2 separate regions of the Homo sapiens genome follow, and region 2 is linked to region 1. Evidence: fine-mapped expression QTL. Tissue or cell type: thyroid. Region 1 holds a variant in brackets; the other region holds the start of a gene. All regions are shown on one strand. Distances are between the middles of the regions.

What was found. PIP is the estimated chance that this variant, and not a neighbour inherited with it, causes the effect.
Region 2: it holds the start of CREBL2, and the variant in region 1 is fine-mapped to the expression of CREBL2 in thyroid (GTEx, PIP 0.98).

What each region holds. Positions count from the first base shown.
Region 1 is chr12:13,246,357-13,249,042 of GRCh38, reverse strand. No RefSeq gene overlaps it. Among named protein-coding and RNA genes, the nearest start is that of EMP1, 51 kb to the right of the region's middle. The variant C/T (reference allele first, on the strand shown) is at 1,046.
Region 2 is chr12:12,610,296-12,612,981 of GRCh38, reverse strand. CREBL2 (cAMP responsive element binding protein like 2) reads right to left here and starts at 1,106. Exons shown (of 4, transcript NM_001310.4): 1 at 795-1,106. The coding sequence starts at 809. RefSeq lists a silencer at 753-1,052 and enhancers at 1,213-1,262, 1,313-1,392, 986-1,737.

The DNA.
Region 1 (2,686 bases):
GACCTGCCTGAGCAACATAGGGAGACCCCATCTCTATAAAAAAAAAAATGTTAATTAGCTGGGCATGATGATGCATGCCTGTAGTCCCAGCTACTCAGGAGGCTAAGGCAGTAAAGATTGCTTGAGCTCAGGAGTTTGAGACTGCAGTGAGCTATGATCATGACACTGGACTCCAGCCTGGGTGACAGAGTGAGGTGAAAAAAAAGTTAATAAAGAAGGAGTATACTGAGACATGTCCGACCTCCCATCCTGTCCTGGCCAGAACTCAGTTTTGAAGGTTTCTCTGGGTACTCTTGGCCAAAAGGGGGTCTGTTAGGTCAGTTGGGAGGCTTAGGATATTATTTGTCTGCCGTACTCTGATTAGTACAGATTTTGGTACCAGGAGTGGTTCTAGAGGAACAGAATTTTAAAAATGAGTTCCCCTAATTGGTTTTGGGGTTTCTAAAATTGTCTCTTTAATGTGACCACACCTAAAAATGCTCGGAACTCTACTTCTAACAGTACAGAGAGCACTGCTAATTCATGTCCTAAACTGTTTATAGAGATACACAAAATATCTGCATTTGATGCTCCAAATCTAAATCCAAATTAATGCAAGGAACTTGATGACTCTGTACATGACACCTTTAAACATTTGTGGAAAACTAAGGAAAATAATAACATTGATGGGCTGCTTCTAATGTCACTGGTCAAAGTGATGGAAAAATATAACAGAGATTCAAATTTCCAGCTCCAGTTCTGCATAAATAACCTACAAGCTTCTAAGTGTGCCCTGAGCCAGAATCTTCTCTTCTGTAACTGCAGGGCTGAAATTGCTGAAAATCAAACACAAGCCCTTATCATCTGATTGGCTGATTTACAACAAAAGTTGGACTCAGCCTCTCAGAGTGTCTGGTGTGAAATTAAGGGCAGTGATTGGGAGAGAATGGGATTCTGTAAATTGGGATGAGGATGTGTGGAAAGACTCTGATGAAACTGGGGACATTGAGCCCCTAAATTCTGATGAGACTTGTTTGCCAAGCAGAGGTGGTCTTACAACCCTCAC[C/T]CCCAGGCAGCAGCCTTCCCACCCACAACAGTATCAATATCAGCCTTTCCACCTGTGTCTGAAGGGGTTAGCCCTTCCTTGCCCGAGGAAACAGTAATGGCGTCCCAAGGCAGTTTCCAAGACAAGGCTGATTCTCCTCAGGACCCACCCTCACCTCCCCTCTTTGTTTCTAGCCCTATAACCAGACTCAAGTCCCAGCAGGCCCCTAAAGGTGAGGTAGAAAACGTGACTCATGAGGAGGTATGCTACATTCCAAAAGAACTACTTGAGTTTTCTAATTTATACAAGCAGAAATCTGGGAAACATGTGTGAGATGGATATTAAGGGTGTGAGATAATGGTGGAAGGAACACAAAGTTGGATCAGGCTGAATTTATTCATATGGGACCACTAAGCAGAGATTCTGTGCTTAATGTTGCAGCTCCAGGAGTTAGGAAAGGTGCTAACCATCTGTTTGGTTGGTTGGCTGAAACATGGATCAAAAGGTGGCCCACTGTGAGGGAGCTGGAGATGCCTGCTCTCCCTTGGTTTATTGTAGAGGAAGGGATTAAAATGCCTAGAGAGAATGGAAGCCTGTACTGGATTTATCACTTAAAATCTGCTCACCTATAAAGGGAGGGTCTGAAGACATACCTTTCACCAATACTGTGAGAAACAGATTTGTGAGCAGAGCCCCAGCATGCCTGAAGAACTCCGTGATTGTTCTTCTCCAGAGGATGGACCTTGCAGTGGGAGGCACAGTTACTCAATTGGAAAACATAAATGCAATGGGAATCATTGGATCCTGGGTGGCTGGGGCCAAGCTGCAGCTCTCAATCACTAAAGCAATGTGGATGTGTTTACCATAATAAACAGCAGAGGCAAAGCAACAATCAGAATAGTCTGACTTACGTAGATCTGTGGCATTGGCTAGTTAATCATGGTGTTCCTAGAAGTGAAATAGATAGGAAGCCTACTACATTCTTACTTGATTTATATAAGCAGAACATTTCCAGGTCAAGTGAACAAAATTCTACCTTGAATCATAAAAACAGAAAATCATGGCCTCTCAATCAGTTCCCAGACTTGAGCCAGTTTACAGACCCAAAACCCCTCTAATGAAGGGGGGGCCAGGGCCCCTCCAGGAAGGAGCCTGGTATACTACCAAAAATATATACTGTTAATCTTTCTCTGATCTTTCCCCAAAGAGACCTCCGGCCTTTTACCAGGGTAACTGTGCACTTGGGAAAGGAAAATAATCAGACATTTTGGGGACTACTGGACATTGGCTCTGAACTGACATCGATTCCAGGAGACCCAAAACATCACTGTGGTTCACCAGTCAGAGTAGGAGCTTATGGAAGTTAGGGGATCAATAGAGTTTTAGCTCAGGTCCAACTCACCGCAGGCTCAGTGGGTCTCCGGACCCATCTTATGGTCATTTCCCCTGTTCCAGATGCATGATTGGAATAGACATATTCAGCAGCTAGCAGAATCCCATGTTGGTTCCCTGACCAGTAGGGTGAGGGTTATTATGGTGGGAAAGTCTAAATGGAAGTCCATTAGAGCTGCCCCTACCTAGGAAAACAGTAACTCAAAACCAGCATCACATCCCTGGAGGGATTACCAAGATGAGTGCCACCATCATGGCCTTGAAGGATGC
Region 2 (2,686 bases), 640 kb after region 1:
GAGAATCGCTTGAACCCGGGAGGCGGAGGTTGTGGTGAGCCGAGATCGCGCCATTGCACTCCAGCCTGGGCGACAAGAGCGAAACTCCGTCTCAATTAATAAATAAAGACAAAAAGGCTATACATAGATAAACTATTTGGATTAACCAATAATGAACATTATCTATTATTTTATAATCATAAAGTAAGTGATTTGGACAGGGAAATTGGATGGTGATGGGCTATTAAAGTTAACAAGAGGAAAATCAGTATTTTTTTAGAGAAGGCTTTCTAGTGGAGGTTAAACTCCACACTGGCCAAATAGCAACAGGAGCTTAGCGGTGTTCCAACCAACCACAGGAAATAGCTCAGAGGGGGAGTGAACTGATTATATGAATGGGGCATTGAGTAAGGGAGCCTGAGAGAAGGGGAATCGTCAAGGGGAATAAGGCTGGTTCAGCGTGCACTAAAGTCTCCAAACTGGAGAGAGGAGGCAGCAAAAAAGTGCAAGAAGAAAAAGTACAGTAGTTTCTTATCTCGACAGGCAAGTTAAGGACTAGGGGTTGCACTACCTGGAAAGCTAGCAAACGCCCTGGGAGTGAAAAATTTCCAGAGAGGGCCCTTCCTGGAAAAACGCAGCCCCGGTGTTCCCTGATTTCCTGGCTGGGTACCATCGGGCAGTGGACTGGAGAGGCGCAGGGATGTTTTAGGCAGGTGTCTCTTGGGTGTTGGCGTGGACTACATAGCGGAGGTTCAGCCGCGGGACTAGCATTGAGCGACAAGAAGGCGGCGGCGCGTGCAAACCACAAGACTTACCTTACTGTCATCCATCGCGGCAGACAGGCCGGCCTGGCCAGGCACTCCCTCCCGGAGCCCTCCCCCGGCTCAGCCGGCCTGGCCCGGCCCCCGCCCCGAGGAAGAAGGGGATATGGTTCTGGCTGCCTCCTCCTCTCGCCTAACAGTTCGCTTCCCTGATGCCAGAGTCACGGGGACGAGGGACCAGTTCAGGAATGGCAGAGCGGACCCTGGAGGCGGCCCCAAACGCCTCCCTTCGCCGCCGCCGCCTCCTCCTCCCCCTCCATGACAGTCTCTGGGTGTTTACAGACGCTCTGGAGAGCCGCCGAGACCGGAGGGTGGGCGGGAGCGCTGCACACGGAATGGCCCCTTCGGCTGCCGTAGCACCGCGGCATTCTGGGAATTGTGATTTTTCTTATCACAGTCTCTGCGCTACTGACTGGAAAAAAAACTACGATGTCCACATAGCCTCATTAAGGGGCAGCTGTTTTCCTTTTGCCTACTAGCTAGCGCTGAGGAGGCGGGGCTGGGCTGGAGGCCCAAAGTGCGCCTGACCTGAGGTTTTGGCTCCTAAGTGCCAGGGCCTGGAATGGCGGGGACGGGAGTTTGGTGCTCTGCGGAGGCAGCCCTGAAGGCGGGGTGCCGGAAGCAGGCCCTCCTCTGGGACGCTGAGGAAACCCTAAAGGTTCTTTATTTAAAAAAAAACGAAAAACAAAAACTAAGTATGTAAAATAGTGCAGCTACTTTGGGAAGAAATTTGGCAGTTCTTCAGAATATTGGCCACTCCCATACCCAAGAGAAATTAAAACGAGTGACTACACAAAAACTTGTATATAAATGTTCTTTCCTAGCAGCATTATTCATAATAGTCAAAAAGTGGAAACAACGCAAATGTCCTTTACTGGATGAATGGATAAACCAGTGTGGACTATACAAATTAAGAAATACTGGCCAGGGGTGGTGGGTCACGCCTGTAATCCCAGCACGTTGGGAGGCCGAGGCGGGAGGATTGCTTTAGCCCAAGAGTTCGAGACCAGCCTGGGCAACATAGCAAAACCTGTCTCTACAAAAAAATACAAAAATTAGTCGAGTGTGGTGGCACATGCCTGTAATCCCAGTTACTGGGGAGGCTGACATGAGAGGATCACTTGGGCCTGGGAGGCAGAGGCTGCAATAAGCCAAGATTGTACCACTGCACTCCAGCCTGGGCGACAGAGCCAGACACTGTATTTAAAAAAAAAAAAAAGAAGAAGAAGAATGAAAGAAGGAAGAAGAACGATGAAGGAAGAAGAAGGAGAAGAAGGAAGAAGAAAGAAGAAGGAAGAAGACCCATATAGTAAGATGCAGTCTCTACAAAAAAAATTAAAAATTAGTTGGGTGTGTTACAAAAAATTTAAAAATTACTTGGGTGTGGTGGTGGTGCTTGTAGTCCTAGCCACTCGGGAGGCCCAGGTGGGAGGATCGTTTGAGCCCTGGAGTTGGAGGCTGAAGTGAGCTGTGATCACGGCACTCCAGCCTGGGCAACAGAGCAAGACTCTGTCTCAAAAAAAAAGGAAAGAAATATTATTCAGCAATGAAAAAAAATGAAGGGATATACACACTTCAATATGTCTGAACCTTGAAAACTTTATGTGAAGTGAAAAAAGCCAGACACAATAGGCCACATATTGTATGATTCCATTTATAATGAAGTGTCTGGAACAGGCACATCTAAATAGACCAAAAAATCCATTAGTGGTTGCCAAGGGCTAGGGTTGAAGAATGGCAGGGATGGAGGGATCCTGGAAAGGAGAGTGACGGTTAATGAGTACTGGGTTTCTTTTTGAGGTGATGAAAATGATCTAAAATTCAGCCGGGCATGGTGGCTCACGCCTGTAATCCCAGCACTTTGGGAGGCCGAGGTGGGCTGATCA